Homo sapiens: one gene and its partners. The protein of the gene in region 2 purifies or fractionates together with the protein of the main gene of each other region. This does not show direct contact. Each region holds a gene or a part of one and is shown on either strand. Other genes may lie near its edges.

The links.
Region 1: the proteins of ZNF71 (region 2) and DDX31 purify together in Homo sapiens (affinity purification with mass spectrometry; 2 studies listed by BioGRID and IntAct, with this or other methods). This does not show direct contact.
Region 3: the proteins of ZNF71 (region 2) and APOBEC3F purify together in Homo sapiens (affinity purification with mass spectrometry; one large-scale study listed by BioGRID and IntAct). This does not show direct contact.
Region 4: the proteins of ZNF71 (region 2) and WDR36 purify together in Homo sapiens (affinity purification with mass spectrometry; 2 studies listed by BioGRID and IntAct, with this or other methods). This does not show direct contact.

What each region holds. Positions count from the first base shown.
Region 1 is NC_000009.12:132,592,497-132,595,792, forward strand, and holds the end of DDX31 (ATP-dependent DNA helicase DDX31), read right to left. Parts: exon of another isoform or gene 2,647-3,296; intron 2,617-2,646; coding exon 2,370-2,616; 3' UTR 501-2,369; downstream 1-500. UniProt on the Homo sapiens protein: May have DNA helicase activity and RNA helicase activity. Probably have ssDNA and RNA dependent ATPase activity. Plays a role in ribosome biogenesis and TP53/p53 regulation through its interaction with NPM1.
Region 2 is NC_000019.10:56,597,327-56,602,930, reverse strand, and holds part of ZNF71 (endothelial zinc finger protein induced by tumor necrosis factor alpha), read right to left. Parts: intron 1,425-5,604; 5' UTR 1,373-1,424; coding exon 1,340-1,372; intron 1-1,339. UniProt on the Homo sapiens protein: May be involved in transcriptional regulation.
Region 3 is NC_000022.11:39,038,562-39,043,663, forward strand, and holds the start of APOBEC3F (DNA dC->dU-editing enzyme APOBEC-3F), read left to right. Parts: upstream 1-2,302; 5' UTR 2,303-2,399; coding exon 2,400-2,416; intron 2,417-4,375; coding exon 4,376-4,529; intron 4,530-5,102.
Region 4 is NC_000005.10:111,125,796-111,130,347, reverse strand, and holds part of WDR36 (WD repeat-containing protein 36), read right to left. Parts: intron 3,615-4,552; coding exon 3,465-3,614; 3' UTR 1-3,464. UniProt on the Homo sapiens protein: Part of the small subunit (SSU) processome, first precursor of the small eukaryotic ribosomal subunit.

The sequences.
Region 1 (3,296 bases), on a different chromosome or scaffold from region 2:
TTCCCTAAAGTTCTCCTCCCTTCACCCCAGGGGGAAAAGAAAAAAATCAAAATAACCCACTGGGCTTCGTTAAAAAAAAAAAAAAAGTCCTTTACTGAGATTTGGTTGGTTCGTTGCTTCTCTAGAGTGCAAGGGGCTGTCTGCACATCAGCACGGACTTCATCTCTCAGCAAGGGGTCTCTGCCCTTCAGTGCGTGAGAATGAGGCCCGTCAACTGCTAAGGCTGTGGCAAACATGAGGATGTTTTGGTTTCCAAAAAAACATTCTACAAGCCCACTCGGGGGAAACGCTTTTAGGCTGCAACATTCTATTAAATGTCCAAATTCTGTGTGACTCTAAATATGGGAACCAGGCTTATGATATAGAGACATGAGTAAGTTTGGGAAATTTTAAAAAGAGGCATGATTAAACATACACAAAAATTAGAATATGTACAGTGGAATTAGGCTAAAGCTTTGCCTAATTGGTGCCTGAAATGTATAATCTGTCAAGAGCCATAATAGAAGAGAAAGAGATTTATTTTAAGGTTATTTAAATTTAAACAATATTAACCTTAAATCTGCTAAATCCATGTTTCTTTATTAACTGGGGTAATATAGTGATTCTACTTAGAAACAGACCCACATAGCATCTATGGCAAGAAACCCTCACCATAAGAGTTAGCAGATTAAGTGTGTAAGTTTTGATCTTGGAATTATCGTCACTCACACGTTGCATGATTCTAGCACTTCTCTTTCCCCCCAGGGATGCCGAACTCTGCCAATTCGCCCTTTAGTGGAATGAGTACTGGGGGAGAAAAAGTAAGGTTTCTCTTTGATCATCCCCAATCACTGGCATTAATCCTGTTTTTCACACAGCTGGGTTTTGTCTATAAAGTTTGATCCCTCCTTTTCTCATCCAAATCATGTGAACCATTACACATCGAAATAAAAGAAAGGTGGCAGACTTGCCCAACGCCAGGCTGACATGTGCTGCAGGGTTGTTGTTTTTTAATTATTATTGTTAGAAACGTCACCCACAGTCCCTGTTAATTTGTATGTGACAGCCAACTCTGAGAAGGTCCTATTTTTCCACCTGCAGAGGATCCAGTCTCACTAGGCTCCTCCTTGCCCTCACACTGGAGTCTCCGCCAGTGTGGGTGCCCACTGACATTCACCTGTGTCTAGAACGGAGGCAAGGATGCTGACCCCCCGTGGTCCCTGCAGGAAGGCCCACCTTGCCAACTCTCACCACCCTCTCGTGGCCACTCAGACCTTCCAAGGATCTGGGGGGATCTACTGAAGTGGTGCCTCAACACTGGTCCTGGGGAGACCACAGAGGGCGGCACAGTCACTGCAGAGGAGAAGGAAACTGAGAAGGCAAGACACAGTGGAGAGGACAGGAGCGGTGCCCACAGGTGTGGAGGCCTCCAACCCTTTCTCTTCTGGACCCCTCTGCAAGTGCCCAAATCTTACATTTATTGGGAAATCAATATGCTCCAGGGGGCCTCTTTCAAACCTCCCAGAAAACACAATGCAGGGGCAGGGCGGGGTGGGTCGGGGGCGGGGGGCGGGCAGCTGTGGCCTGGGTCACAATACAAAGACCCCCAGACCTTTCTTGAAGACAAGACAGGATTCGATAGGGAAAAAAAGCTTGGGATACTGGTGCCTTTTGACTTCAAAGGCAAATAATAAAAAGCCAACAGTAAATCAATTAGCCCTGAGAGAGTGAGTTTTCAGTGGACATGAAAGAGGGAGCAATGCATGTAAATGCAACCTCGTGTTTCCAGAAGAAAATAAGAGGGACCACGAGCCTGAGAACACATTCGTATTTTTTGACCCAGACCAAAAACTTTTGGTCCTTTTTAACGGTACATTCCTACATTAAGAAAATAATTAGTGATAAATATATTCTCTTTTTGTACAAATTCAATTCCAGTTTTTAACACCCTAATTCACAAAATTCATGCCAATGTATGCGCTGATAGGCTGAAGCCAAGCTGTGAAACTTCAGAACACAGTTAAGGGCAGCAATCAAGCCCGTTCCAGGCTGACGCGCAGGGCGTTCTTACATCACATCCCGGGGTGCCAGCTCAACCCCGGCACGTCAGCACCTGGGTGAAGGGAGTGCCGGGCACTGATGGGATCAATACAAGACACAGACCCCTTCCGTCGGGAGCTGGCTAGTCTCTACAGTGCCCCACACCACTGATTTCTATCAGGCTCCAGGGCCTCCCATGGAGGAGAAGGGCTGTGGCCCCTCTGATTCTTGGGGACGTGGTATTCAGGCAAAGGCGCAGTTATTTTTCACAAGCCTCCTCTGACAAGAACTGGACATCAATCCACTGCCACCCGGGGCTTCCAGGTTCCACTCGAAGACCCAGAGAGATTTTAAACTTTCTGGGAAGTCTTGCTGTCCCGCTGTACACCTTTTTGGGTTTTTCTCCATTTTAATGTTTTCCCACGGCCAAAGCAGGGTGTCGGCTGCAGACTGTGCTGCAGGGGCCGGCCACCAGGCTCTCCAGGTGCGTTTTGCTTTTTGACCTTGGCGATGTCGGCCTCCATGCCGCTTGAGTATTCCGAACGTAGGATTTCAGCGAGGCTGTGTTTACTCTGGGTCTTCTTATGAAGGTCAGGCCTGAAGAACAGTAACAGCAGAGAGGGAAAAGAAACTTTATTATTTTTCTTTCCCATTTGGAAAGAGGCTGATAGCAGCTGGTTCTGAGACTGTGAAGCTGACATTTTTGTATTAACAGAAGTACAATCCCTTCAATAGTACTTGTTTTGATATTCGATGCACCAGAAGATTAGATACGGCGCTGACAGATTTTCATAACAGCGGCAAAATATCATGGCATTTTTAAAAGTGAGGCTTTGTTCTGTGTTGTTTTCATGGGGAAAAAAAGAACTATACACCCTCATGCTCTGATGGCAAATGAGGTGTATGATACAGCGGTTTGCCAAAGGACAGGGAAAAACCCACCGTCACACTCAACAACATGAAGCAGTGAAAGCTCACGGCAGCTTCCCAGTAACCCCTAAGCAGCTTAAAGCAACTGGCCTCCTCATGGGCTCCTGAGGGCTTCAGGACTCAGCCCTGCGGGAGCAGAGTCCAGCAAGTTCCACGCAGCCCTCCAGGGTTCCACAGTGAAGGCTGGGATGACAGCCAGATAGCTCTTTATGAACGGAAAAAACTCTTAAACATATTTCTGACCCTACAAAACCCAAACCCAGGGCACAGCCTGGTCAATGTCTGCATCTAGGATTAGACCAGCAGCTTTCTGCAGCCCACACAAACCCGGGTGTTAGAGGGAGGTC
Region 2 (5,604 bases):
ATAGCTGCTATGTGACCTGTGGATGGAGAAACCCTTTCACAGCTTAAAGATGAAGAAAGACACCACAGTGGGAGAAACCAACAGATTTGATTTTAAAAATATGAAATGCTTTTATACAGAAAAAATAAAGTAAAATAAAGAAACAAAAAGCAAATCTGGGAAGAATATTTGCCACAAATATTTACACACACACATTTGCTTCTGTAAAGTCTTTAAAGCATACTCAGATTCCTGTAGACTGCTAAAGCACAAGATGGATCATTTCCCTGCCCACAGAAATGGCTAGTAAACATTTTCTAAGACTTGAACTTCACTAATAATACAAACAATGCTACTCAGAAATAAATCACGTGGCACCATTTGTCCCCTATCAGGCTCATCATGGTTTATAGCATTTGTCATTTATATCCATTTATCATTTATTATCATGGTGCAATATTGCACCAATCTAAATATATCCAACATGCAGAATAAATGCCTGACAACAGCCATATAAATCATCAGAGACCCGCTCAGACATGCTGGTGGGAATACATACCGCCGTAACTGATGTGGAAATAATATCAAAATACCTCAAAAATACCCAACCCAATCTTCCTCTTCAAGGAATCACTCCTAAAGAAATCATATAAGACACAAAGAAAGATTTGTGCCCAGTGTCCCTCATGACACTGTTTATAACCAAAAAAAGAATACTTGGAAACCAATAAAGGTCCAACAACAGAGGAACCATTAAGTAAACCAGGGTATGGCCACTGAACAACACTTTTATGGGGTCATTAAGATGGACGTTACAAAGGAGTTTTTAATGATGTGGAGAAATGCTCAGGATGAAATCTCTGATGAAAAAGCAATCTTTAACATTAAAATTGCTTAGCCAGACTCAAACATTCCAGAGTGATTATCTTTTGGGGTAAAATCATGGGTGAATTTGTGGGCCTCATTCCCATAAGCTTTTGTACTTTCATCACACATGTGGGCATTCACATTCACAAGAAGCATTTAGTGTGTTTGCCCATTTTAAAGGTCACACATCCAGCATGGTCCTGCGCAAGTTTTCACTCAATGTCACATGTCTAAACCACCACTTCCCACAGGTGCCCACCTGTGTCTCCTAAGAGTCCAGAGAGCTAGTTTGGCCATTCCAAAGCTTCCCTGTCCCCTACAACTGACCCCACAGCCAGGGTCAGCATCATCTATAAGCACAGCCCTCTTCATCAGGGCAGACACAGCCCCAGAAGATGGGACTGGGGGCCTTGGAGAGGGTTCGAGCAGCAGAGGCTCACCCAAGGCAGGATCCAGCCTTTGGAAAGGAGAGTGACAGGGCAACATGACTCACCAGTGCCTCATCAGTCAGCAGCTGAGCAGCCATCCCTCTGCTGCCCACGGTGAATAGGAAGACAGGCCTGCGGTGACCAACAGTGCTGTAGGGAGAAGAAAGAGGGAGGCATGCTGAGAGACCAGGCCTAGGCTGGCCTCACAAATGTAGACAGGACAGACACACACCCACTGAGAGACAAGCAGAGACAGACAGATAGACACACATACACATACATCAACAGTGAGTATTTAGAGGGCTTACTGCATGTAGGGAACTTGAATGTATATCACTTGATCTTCCAACCATCCTGGAAGGTAGGTACTACTTCTACCTACCCATTTCACAGATGAGGAGGCTGAGGCCCGAGGAGATTAAACCACTTGCTCAAGATTACAGAGCTGGGACTGGAGTCAGGCAGAGTATGTCTGGGTCCACAGCTTAGCCTCCAGGCTACAATGCCTCACAGATGCACTCCCATGTACACTCCTATAGATATGGTTAACACACATACACTCACACACATTCCCGCAGGCTGCTGAGGGCCACCGGACACCCTGCCTTCTCCCAATGGCCCTGCCCGGATCCCTCCTTGAGTGTGAGTGCTGGACTGAGGCCCCCTGAGATGCCCCAGAACCACCTGTGGCCTCTTTGGGCACTTCCCCCAGACTTCATGGGGTTACCATGAGGTTCAACTAGCAGATATGAGTGTAAGGAACTTCCACCCAGGGGCTCTCAGAGCCAGATTCGCCTAGAGAAATGCATCTTGATTCAATTCTCCTCCAGTTCTCCTGACAAGCTCAGGATAAAGTCTCAAGTGGAGAGATATCTTAACATCCCTGCAACCCATCACTCGCCCCTTGAAACAAAAGAAAAGCAGGAGAATAAGATCCTGTGATTTGCAACAACATGGATAAAACTGGAGGTCATTATGTTAAGTGAAATAAGCCAGGCATAGAAAGACAAACTTTGCAAGTTCTCACTTGTGTGAGCTAAAAATTAAAACAAACTCATGGAGATAGAGACTAGAATGATGAAGAAACCTGAGGCTGGGAAGGGTAGTGGAAGGGTGGGGGGAATGTGGGGATGGCTAATTGGTATTAAAAAAATACAGAGGGCCGGGCGCGGTGGCTCACGCCTGTAATCCCAGCACTTTGGGAGGCCGAGGCGGGTGGATCATGAGGTCAGGAGATCGAGACCATCCTGGCTAACAAGGTGAAACCCCGTCTCTACTAAAAATACAAAAAATTAGCCGGGCGCGGTGGCGGGCGCCTGTAGTCCCAGCTACTCGGGAGGCTGAGGCAGGAGAATGGCGTGAACCCGGGAAGCGGAGCTTGCAGTGAGCCGAGATTGCGCCACTGCAGTCCGCAGTCCGACCTGGGCGACAGAGCGAGACTCCGTCTCAAAAAAAAAAAAAAAAAAAAAAATACAGAGGGTTGCAGTGAGCCAAGATTGCACCACTGCACTCCAGCCTGGCAACAGAGCGAGACTCCATCTCAAAAAAAAAAAAAAAAAACAAACCCCAAAAAAACAAAAAAACACACACACAAAGAATGAATAAGACCTACTATTTGACAGCACAACAGGGTGACTATGATCAATAATAATTTAATGATACATTTAAAAATAACTGGCCGGGCGCAGTGGCTCATGCCTGTAATCCCAGCACTTTGGGAGGCCGAGGCGGGCGGATCACGAGGTCAGGAGATCAAGACCACGGTGAAACCCCGTCTCTACCAAAAATACAAAAAATTAGCCGGGTGTGGTGGCAGGTGCCTGTAATCCCAGCTACTCGGGAGGCTGAGGAAGGAGAATGGCATGAACCCAGGAGGCGGAGCTTGCAGTGAGCTGAGATGGCAACACTGCACTCCAGCCTGGGTGACAGAGCGAGACTCCATCTCAAAAAAAAAAAAAAACAAAACACTAAAAATGTAATCAGATTGTTTGTAACACAAAGGATAAATCCTTGAGGTGACAGATACCCCATTTATCCTGATGTGATTATTACACATTGTATGCCCGTATCAAAATATCTCATGTACTCCATAAATATATAAACCCACTACACACCCAGAAAAATTAAAAATTAAAATTAAAAAGAAAAGCAGGGTTCAGGCCCCAAAGTTAGGGTGACCATAATATCTCATTAGAACTACCTGGCTTTACTTCAATTTGTTTTAAAGTTTGTTTCCCTTCTTACAGCAAAACTCAGCTTCTTTTACAGCAGTCACACAGAATACCCTTTTAAACTAAGTTGATTTAAATTAAAAACAAAAAAAAAATCAGTGAGCCAAATCAAGTAAATGGCAAAGTAAAAAAATAGGATCCATGACACAGATGAGGACAAATTCTTGGAGTCTGAGACATGCTGGCTCAGTCCTGGCTTCTCCCGTGATGGGGGCTCACTACCCGTGCCACCAACACCTCTGACTGGAAATGAGTTTTTCTTCTGCTATAAACAGAAACATGCCTCTCTACATCTCCAACCCTTCAAGATCACCCAGAAAAGCCTCAATCCTCTCCAACACAATGCTCTTGTAGCTGGTGCACCAATTCTCAAAGTACCAGAATCACTGGGGATGCTTATTAAAATCTCACTCAGAATATATATTCCTGCCCCCCACCTCAGATCCTCTGAATCAAACTACCTGGGTAGGGCCCCTGAATCGGTATTTCTAAGCAAGTTTCCCAGGTGATTCTGACACGTCTTAAAGCGTAAGAACCACTAAGACAAAGAAGAGCCTTTCTTAGGCCAAATGGCCCCAACTTCCACAAGTGAAAAGTAATTTTAATTGTAGGGGGGCATATATATAAGGCCAAGTTGGCAGAAGCCTTTGGAACTCAATCGGGAACAATTCTGCCCCCGGAGACATTTGTCAACGTCTAGAGACATTTGCCAAACTGTCATAATTTGGCAGGGGAGTGCTATGGGCGTTTAGTTGGTAGAGACTGGGGATGCTGCTACACACTGTACGATGCACGCGACAGGCCCCACAACAAAGAATGATCAGGCCCAAAGGTCAGTAGTGTGGAGGTTGAGAAGCCCTGTTGTAGAACAAAAGGATCACAAAGGTGTGGGCTGGGGGTTCCTACCACTTAATGCCTGTACCCGGGCACCACACCTGGCCAACTGTAATCACTCAGTGAAAATGTCCTCTGGGCTAAAACTCTTCAAAACTCTTCGTTGGCTTCCCCCACCATTAGAAATCACTCAAAGTCTTCACTGCTGCCCACATAGCCCTTATGATGTGCCCCTGATGGCCTCTCCCCTTCCATCTCCTCTACTCCCCTCTCCCATGCTTGGCCCCAGGCCTCCTGGCCTCTGCATCTGCTGTTCCCTCTGGAGGGAATGCTCTTCCCATGACTACCCCTGCTTCCTGGTCAGCTCCAACGTCACCTCCTTGGAGAAGTCCTCTACCCCCAATCACCTGACCTCAAGCAGCAACTCTCTCCCCCTCTATTTTCTTGCAGTACAAACCACTATTGACAACTGTCTTTTTTAAAATAGTTGTTTTCAAGTTTGTCATCTGTCTTCCCTCCATGAGAACAGAAGCCCCCAGGGAGCAGGGATGATCACTTTCAGATTGTATTTCCGACATCTAGGACAACGTCTAACACACAGGAGGCACTTAGACATCAAGCTGAATGAACAGATGAGCTAACTTCTAGTGCTGGCCAGGATTGAAAGGAACAGGCCCTCTCACACACTGGTGAGGGAATGTGAGTCGCTCAACATTTTTCTGGAAAGTGAGCTGGCAATACACAAATCCCATAACCCAGCAACCCTGTTCCTGGGAATCTGCCCACACCAATAAAAGCTCCGTGTAAAAGTTACATATAGGAAAAAAAGATATTTATGGCAGCATTGTTTCTAGAGGCAAAAAAAAACCCTGAAAACAAAATTAATAAACATTACTAAAGGAATCAAATCGAGGGTAGGGTCTCCATAGTATGAAGTATCAGGTCGCCTCTGCGAAGCAGAGTTAGTTCTGCATCTGTTGACATGTCTGTGGTTTCACTAAGTGAGAAAAGCAAGTTACCCAGTTTTATGCATACCTTTAGCCCCTTTGTGAAAAAACAAACCAAAACATGTGGATGTGGACACATCTGTACAGCATCTTCCAGCCTGGGGAAGGCTGTGGAATGAGGCTGGGTTGGTGTCTGGAGGGCATGGAGTGGGAATGAGAAGGGGGTAGAAGTTATTAATTATTTTTTCTTTCTCTTCCTTTGAATTGTTTCCCTGGGTGTAGAAACTTCATATTACCATCAACATTTTTGAAACACAA
Region 3 (5,102 bases), on a different chromosome or scaffold from region 2:
ATACAGGCTTAATTGTGGTACATTTAAATGTTGTCTCCACCGCAATGTGAGGACGGATTATACGGTTGCTTTTTTTTTTTTTAGATTTTTGTTTGTTTGTTTTTTGTTTTGAGATGGAGTCTCACTCTGTCTCCCAGGCTGGAGGGCAGTGGCGCGATCTCGGCCCACTGCAACCTCTGCCTTCTGGGTTCAACTGATTCTCCTGCCTCAGCCTCCCGAGTAGCTGGGATTTCAGGCACGTGCCACCACACCCGGCTAATTTTTGTAGTTTTAGTAGAGACCAGGTCTCACCATGTTGGCCAGGTTGGTCTCGAACTCCTCACTGTCATGCGTGTCTGTATAGAAAACCACCTAAACAGGCTTTGTGTAAGCAATAACGCCATTTATTCACTTGGGTGCAAGTGGGCTGAGTCTGAAAAGAGAGTCAGCGAAGGGAGATAAGAGAGGGGCAGCTTTATAGGACTTGGGTAGGTGGTGGAAAGTTACAGTCGAAGGTGGTCATCTGTTGTCAGCAGGGGAGGGGGTCACCAGGTGCATGGTGGGAGACCATGAGACCCATTGTCCAGAAGAAGAATGTCATAAGGTCGATTGATCAGTTAGGGTAGGGCAGGAACAAGTCCTAATGGTGGAATGTCTTAAGGTTGGTTAATCAGTTAAGGGAGAAACTGGCTGTTTCACTTCTTTTGTGTTTTTTTGGCTGCTCCAGACTTCTTGGCTGCTGCAGGCCATCTGGATGTATATGTGCAGTTCACAGGGGTCACAATGGCTTAGCTCCGGCTCAGAGGCCTGACACTGACCTCAGATGATCCACCTGCCTCGGCCTCCCAAAATGCTGGGATTACAGGCGTGAGCCACTGTGCCTGCCTGGGATCATATGTTACACGCATGTTTGTTCAATAAGCATGGAGTGCAGCCACCCACATGAATATTCATAGCTCCTCCTATAGCCTGTTGAATATGTATGTTTAGCCAACCCCTTCAGCATAAAGCTCCTGCCCCAACCCCTCCTGCTTCTAAATGTCTGTCTCTGGTGTTTCCCAGAGGCTGCTCTTCCCAGGCTGCGGGATGGCTACCTTGCTGCCTGTCACCCTTAACAAGAAATAAAATCTCCTTTCCAAATTTATACATTGTGGCCAGGCGCGGTGGCTCACACCTGTAATCCCGGCACTTTGGTACGCCAAGGCGGGCGGATCTCCTCAGATCGGGAGTTCGAGATCAGCTGACCAACATGGAGAAACCCTGTCTCTACTAAAAATACAAAAATTAGCCAGGCATAGTGGTGGGCGGCTGTAAGCCTGACCAACATGGAGAAACACTGTCTCTACTAAGAATACAAAAATTAGCCTAGGCGTAGGGGTGGGTGCCTGTAATCGCAGTTACATGGGAGGCTGAGGCAGGAGAATCTTTTGAACCTGGGAGGCAAAGGTTGCGGTGAGCTGAGATTACGCCACTGTACTCCAGCCTGGGTAACAGAGCAAGTCTCCGTCTCAAAACAAACAAACAAACAAAAAAACACAAAAAAACAAAAGCAAACAAAAAAACCAAATGCATCCCTTGTGTAATTTTTAGGTCACCGCGCCATGGGAACACGCTACCAGGGGAAGGGAGCTGTGAGACGCGCAGGGAGGCTCCAGACAGGCTGGCCTGGGACACCAGCCACTGCTCTTCCATGACATGGGGACAAGAGGAGGCGAGAGCTCAGCCCACCAGGGAGGAACTCCGGGCAGGAGATGGGGAAGAAGGAGAAGCAGGAAGGAAAGAGCTCAGTGTGGGGGCGCGCATGGCATCCCGGTGGGACATCTGAGGCCCACACCCACCTGCTGTCCCTCCCTCCCACGGTGGCCTCCGAGGGTGAAGGCCTGGGGAGAGGCAGACACCTGGCCCTTTACTCTCCCTCCCTGTCCCCATGGCCGCTGGGTGGGGGCCGTCTCTGGGATGATCCCCGAGGGCAGGATCCGGGAGTCCCTGCGGAGGCATCAGCCTGTCTGTCTTGATGGTGGAGAGGAGGCTCCAGCTGGGCGGGACCACCAGGGGAGGGGCTTGTGCTCTGCTGGCTCAGCCTGGTGTGGACCCACCTCGCGGGCGCTGGCTGCAATGACTTTCTCTTTCCCTTTGCAATTGCCTTGGGTCCTGCCGCACAGAGCGGCCTGTCTTTATCAGAGGTCCCTCTGCCAGGGGGAGGGCCCCAGAGAAAACCAGAAAGAGGGTGAGAGACTGAGGAAGATAAAGCGTCCCAGGGCCTCCTACACCAGCGCCTGAGCAGGAAGGGGGAGGGGCCATGACTACGAGGCCCTGGGAGGTCACTTTAGGGAGGGCTGTCCTGAAACCTGGAGCCTGGAGCAGAAAGTGAAACCCTGGTGCTCCAGACAAAGATCTTAGTCGGGACTAGCCGGCCAAGGATGAAGCCTCACTTCAGGTACCGCTGCCCGCTCTACCCGCTGGGCCCCTCTGCTGCCCCTTCCTGCCTGGTGGCTCTGCTGGGCGTCAGCCCTGGCCTCCCCCTGCCCCAGCCCCAGCCCTGGGCTCCCTCCCCTCTGGCTCCCCTGCCCCCGCCACTCCCAGCCAGGCTCTTTTTCCTGCTCTGTGGTTGCCCCACTGCTGCTTCTGAATAGGCCGCTTCCCCACCTGCCCCAGCCCAGGTGCCCTGCTGAGACTCTCCCCCGCCACCGAAAGTCATGGCAGGGCTGGTGCTCCCGGCCCTGGGAGGGTGCTCCCTCTGTGTTCTTTCCGCCATTCCTGAACTCTGGAACTGGGAGAATTGAACCAAAGGATGATTAGAGCAATGTGGAATTTTGTTCACAGTGCTTTGATGGATTTTCTGTAACATTTACTTTGCTTAAATAGCAAGTCTTAGGAGAGGGTGTGGGGAGGGAATGGTCTCTGAAGCACAAGATAAATCGTATCTTCCAAGGATGTCTCCACTGTGGGCAGAGGAGGATGCAGATGACCCCAAACACACGCTCCTCCTCCACTATCAGCATTCACTGTTTATAAATGACACGAGTAACATGGAATATAGTGGCCGGGTGCGGTGGCTCACACCTGTCATCCCAGCACTTTGGTAGGCTGAGGTGGGTGGATTGCCTGAGGTCGGGAGTTCGAGACCATCCTGATCAACATGGATAAACCCTGTCTCTACTAAAAATACAAAATTAGCCGGGTGTGGTGGCGGGCGCCTATAATCCAGCTACTCCACAGGCTGAGACAGGAGAATCGCTTGAACCCAGGAGGCGGAGGTTGCAGTGAGCCGAGATCGCCCCATCGCACTCCAGCCTGGGCAACAAGAGCCAAATTTCGTCTCAAAAGAAAAAAAAACAAAAACAAAAAACATGGAATATATGGGAAAAAAACTCAATGATCAGGAGAAATGCTATTATTTTAAAATTTAGTAAGAAGAGAGTCTGGTCCCCAATGGCTCCCTCCTGCAAGGCTGGTGACACAGAGACTGGACAGGGCTGGTCTGGTAAGAGGCCCCAGCCCCATCCGTCCCCAGCTCTGTGGCCTGGGCAGGTTACCCCATCTCTCTGCGCCTCTGGCACCTCCTCTGTAAGATGGGAATGGCCCGTGCGGGCCTAGGGCAGCCTCACATGAGCTCACATCCGCGCAGCACTTAGAAGAGTGGCCTGGGCCTCAGAATTCGGTTCTACCATGATTTAACAATAGTAATATACAGAGGTGAAATGTCAGAAGGAACTGGCTGAAAGGTTAAAATCTATTATTTTGGGGTGAATAGTTTTATTCTCTCTCTCTTTTTTTTTTTTTTTTTTGAGATGGAGTTTCGCTCTTGTAGCCCAGGCTGGAGTGCAGTGGCACGATCTCGGCTCACTACAACCTCCGCCTCCCAGGTTCAAGCGATTCTCCTGCCTCAGCCTCCACAGTGGCTGGGATTACAGGCACCCACTACCACGCTTGGCTAATTTTTATATTTTTAGTAGAGACTGGGTTTCACCATGTTGGTGAGACTGGTCTCAAACTCCTGACCTCAAGTGATGGGCCTACCTCGGCCTCCCAAAGTGCTGGGATTACAGGCATGAGCCATAATGTCCAGCCAAGAACTTTGTTCTCTTTTGCATTTTACTAATGCGTTGGAGAATGGGTGGGAGAAATACTGGGAAGGTGGGGAATGTACTCCTGGAACGACCAGAGCTGGACCCTGAGCTGGAAGAGGTCAGCCTGCCCCTGCTGCCCATGCCAGCATCCCCTTTTCTTGCTCTCTCCCCGGTCTTCCTGCCTGGGAAGGAAGCAAAAATTCTCAGGGCTGTGGAGGGGTTGGGGAGGCCCAGAGCCATGCAGGGGGCTGTGTTTAGTGGACATCAGCCCTGAGGGCTCCCGGGAGCGCTCTCTACATTGGCTGGTTTCTCTCTTGTGTCTTCAGAAACACAGTGGAGCGAATGTATCGAGACACATTCTCCTACAACTTTTATAATAGACCCATCCTTTCTCGTCGGAATACCGTCTGGCTGTGCTACGAAGTGAAAACAAAGGGTCCCTCAAGGCCCCGTTTGGACGCAAAGATCTTTCGAGGCCAGGTACCACCCGGACTTCAATCACTTTGCAGGCAGGAGCTAAGCCAGCTGGGAAAGCAAACCACGCACTGATAAGTGAAGTGCCCGGCGGCGGGCTATCCAGTGTGTCCTTCTCTCCCACACTTTCCAAGTCCGTGGCCCTGACCTTCCTGCTGGACCGTCCTGGGATCGGATCGTGGAGGGGGTTTGCCTTTGCACAAAAGGCCTTGTGTTTTTTTTTTTTTTTTTTTGAGACAGAGTTTCACTCTTGTTGCTCAGGCTGGAGTGCAATGACGCGATCTCGGCTCACAGCAACCTCTGCCTCCTGGGTTCAAGCGATGCTGTCGCCTAAGACTCCCGAGTAGCTGGGATTACAGGTGCCCACCACCACGCCCAGCTAATTTTTTTTTTTTTTGTATTTTTAGTAGAGACAGGATTTTACCATATTCACCAGGCTGGTCTCGAACTTCTGACCTCAGGTGATCCACCTGCCTCGGCCTCCCAAAGTGTTGGGATTACAGGTGTGAGCCACAGCGCCGGCCTAATTTTAATATTTAATTAATCCAATGTGGCTAACATATTACTTCAACATTAATT
Region 4 (4,552 bases), on a different chromosome or scaffold from region 2:
ACTTATATGCAAACTTTTTTCAACCAAACACAAATAAAACATATGGTATTTGAGGGATGCAAAACCCTCAAATACAAGGACCGACTTTTCATATGCATAGGTCCCATGATCTGCAGGGCATTGCTTGGATTTTGGTATCCACAGGGGTCCTGGAACTAGATACCAAGGGAGGACTGCACTCGGTATTGTCGGTCTCTCCAAATCAGTCCTATAAATGTTGTGCAACCCATATCAAAACTTCAAGAGATGTGCTCACCAGCAGTTAACCAATTTTTATAGAACATGAGGAAGGCTTTACCCAAATCTGAGAACATACCAAAGTAATGCATCATTTACTAGGAATATGGAAGAGCTCAGTGAAAGAATTTAACACATAATGAAACAGCATTTCAAATCAGACATATGAGTGGACTTTTCAATAAATGAATTTTGAACAGATATTGGAAGCAGCGCTGTTTCACTCTTCAGAAAAATCAATTCTAAAGATCTACATGTTAACTACTCACACAGAAACATGTCGTAGAGGAAAATACATGACGTGAAATGAGCACATGTAAACATAGGAAAACATACACTGTAAATGTCTTAGAAAATAATTTGCTTTATATCCTGAAATAAGTCATGAAAATTAATCAATTTGATTGTATACAAATATAAAACATTTATTTAAACAGACACCATGTAAAATTAAAGCCAAATGGCTAAGTAGGAGAAAACATTGGCAACAGACATAAAATACAGAAAATACAAGAGAACTCCTAACAAATCCATGAGATAAAAGGACAAATCATTCAATAGAAAAATGAGAGGAAAAAGAAAATTAACAAATGTTTATATGTTCTAAAATAAACATACAAAAATATGTCCATCTTCACTAGTGAGAAATTTCTGATTTAAAACCAAAATAATTTTTTCAGAGTAATTAAATTACAAAAATCCAATAGCAAGTGTCATTAATTACATGGGGAAGCAGATGCTCATATCTTGCTCAGGGGAACTGTAACTTGATACAGCCATTCTGGAACCCAAATGGAAGTATCTCTTCAAATTAAAAATGGTTATACTCTGGCCTGAAATTCAAATCCTAAGCATATACCACAGAGAGAGCCTTATATGTACAAAAAGGGCTCATGTAGGATGATGTTCCTTTCAGCATTGTTTGTAATTATAAAGGAATAAAAAGAAGGAAAACTTCCTTAAGTGTCTATTATAGGCAAAGTACTGTTGGACAGTGCACAAGAGATTAGGTAAATGTGAATGTACCAAAATAAAAAACTCCCAAGTAGAAATAGCAAGTTGTACAATAATATACATACACGTATGTAAAAATCGTAACTATACATTTCCTGTGGCTGTAGATAATATATACACATTCCTACATTAAACACTCATAAAAACACTCTAAAAGAAGATCTAGGAGAGTTAAAACTATTACTTCTACAGAGGATATTGGGACTGAAGATGGTTTTCAAAAAGCACACAAGCAAAATGTAGTCATATATTACATGAGTAATTAAAAAACTGAAAGAGTGTGCACAGATTGATATATTTTAAGGAAAATATAGATAAAATTATATTTTCTATTTCTTTCCCTCCCTTGATGGAAACAGTACATGAAAGGTTCTAGAAGATTACCTGCCAAAATGATGTATTCTATCTAAATATATCTCTGGTAACAATACACTTAAGTCTTTATGCTCACTTTAAAAAGAGAAGAAAATTCGGTTCATGATTTCTGTAAGCAATACAATTTCAGTTCACAGCTCTTATCATTTTGTTTTAGTTATTTACAATCTTTACTAGGTATAGAATTATATATTGGGATTTTGCCATATTCCAATTTAGAATATAGTATTTAGGAAAGAGGAAAATAGTTTTTTAAATTAGAACTTAAGTCATGATTAACATTTCTGTCAGTGGCTTTAATAAGTCAATACACATTTCTAAAAGAAAAACGAAATTGAGTACAATAACCACATTGGCTTATTTCCTTAGTAGTTTATTAATTCTATCTTACATCATTAAATAAAAACATGAATATTAAAAGATATCACTGGTAAATGCCTTTTGAGGACTGCTTCTTTTGGAGATCATTCTACAAAACTCTCTTACCCTAACAACGAACGAGAATGCTACTGGTGTTCATATTCAAACCACTGTGTTTCATGAAAGACCCAACTTTTGAGGGTATAAACTAAGAATAGTTTTTAGAGCGCTATGCTTTAAAGAACTGCTTATTTTTAATTCATGTATTGCAAAAGTCTTGAACCATAAAAAAAACAAAACAATGATGATGAGAAAAAAAGAAAACTCCAGGGCTACCTGGGTTTGCAATGGTTGTGAAAGAAAAGTATACTCAGCATTTTCTTCCCAAATTAAAAGGTCCCCCCCAAAAAAGTGTAGCCAAAAAAAAAAAAAAAAAAACAAAACAAAACAAAATAAAAAAAACCCTGGCTTTGAAATACCCATTCTTGGCTGTGGTAGCAATAAACAATATTGCTAAAAATTGTTTGCAAGGATTTATGGAATTTTTACCTTTTCAGAGGACATTAAACTATTGTTATCTACATGTCTGCAGTGTCAGTAAAAGGCCATCTTCCAATGGAATTTGGAATTTCCCTTACCTATCCTTGGTATCAGTTTAACCATCTACAGCGACTTGCCTTGGGCAAGGAAGGGCCTCCCACATTTCTGATCCATGAACAACTTCCTTTCAGTACATTACAATGGAGAAAGCACTAGGCCACTGTTAGAAAGTTTTAATCTGTCACTGAAATACCAGCAGACTTTAGCCTGATTCCTCTCCTGCAACACAACAGGGCTGTGCTAGAAGATGATTAGTTTATCCTCCAACTCTGAGAGTCAATCATTCATATTTTTATCAAAGGCCACCGAGGAAAAAAGCATTCCTTTTTTCTTCATAACAGCATTTTTATAACTACATCATGTATCAGTTTTATCTGACATTTTCAATTTAATTCAGCAATACTTCACAGTGAACATGCAGCATCTCTTTATATGAAACAGATACTCAAAAAATATAAGCAGGTAATAATTTTTTAAAAATCATATAAAAGTTAATGTGAAGAGACTCAGAAAATAAATCATTTGAGCAGATTCTTTAAGTCTTCAAAACAAAAGGCAGGTGTAATTTATTTTTTTAACTTTTTGTAGAGATGGGATCTTGCTTGCTATGTTGCCCAGGCTGGGCTCAAATTCCTGGCTTCAAGCAATCCTCCCGCTTTGGCCTCTGAAAGTGCTGGAATTACAGGCATTATCCATCATGCCTGGCCGGGAGGTGCGATTTTATTTCAAGAAAGTATTTAGCATTTAAAGTGGAGATATACTGACTAGTCAGTAGTGCTAGCATTTATTTTCTTTTCACATTGACACTTGGAAAATAAGAAATGAGTTCAATTGAACCCATTTAATATGAAAGTCTTTGTTTAGTCACAAATTTATTTTTACAACAAAGCACTTTTGAGATAATTTAAAATACACATGCTTTGATTGAAGAGTGATTGCAAATGGGTCCAGTTTTCTTCCACCTGGGATGACAAATTTGTTATTTCTTCTAGGAGTACTGGCTCTGAAGGAAGCATTTTAAGGTGTAACTGCAAAGAAAAATATGATGATTGAACATTTAAGAAAATTAAAATTTTACCTAATCTGGATTCAATTTTTCTACCAAGGAACCACAAAAGACACTAGGTGAATATTTGTTTTCTTAAGCGCTGGTTTATTACTATCTCCCATTTTCCCCTCCTCTATCAAACTTTTTTTATTATAAGGTCCTTTATGATACTGTGACTTCCTTGGTAGAATTAAAGTGGTCATCACTCCTCTCCACCTAAGGACAGTCCTGATACTTTTAAATAATCAGATCAAGTGAACTCATTTTAGGTATAAATGGGATAAAGAATCAAATCTATTATCACCAAAAATCGGCATCATCTACCTCCTTCAACACATTATACCACTAAAGTAGACCCTCAAAACATGAGTTCACCACTATATTAATCATAAAAGTAACAGTCTTATTGTCAAATGATCAAAACTCCTTTAATAATGATAGAAGTGAACATTTTGATTTCAGTAGTAGAAAAAAAAACAAACAAACCCAACTTTCTATTCATAATCACAAAAAACTTCCAAAATGTAACTAACCACTAAAAAAAGAAAAGTTAATGGTTCAGCACATTGGATCAAGCAGATAGCATAAAAATGTCAGGGGGTAAAGTCAAAATTATTGTGCAGTTGAGTAAAAAAACAAAACAAGACTCCCAAGCTGCACTGTCTAGCTGTCCAATGTGGTAGTCACTAGCCACATGCGGTTATTTAAATTTAAATTAATTAAAATTCTATAAAATTAAAAATCCAGTTTCTTGATCACACTATTTACATTTCAAGAACTCAATAGCTACATGTGGCAAGTGGCTATGATACTGGAAAGGATGGATATACAGCATACCCATCTTTGCAGAAAGTTCTGTTAGATAGCACTGCCCCAGAAGAAGACAAGCTGGGCAGTACTGTCTTACATTAGACTTAC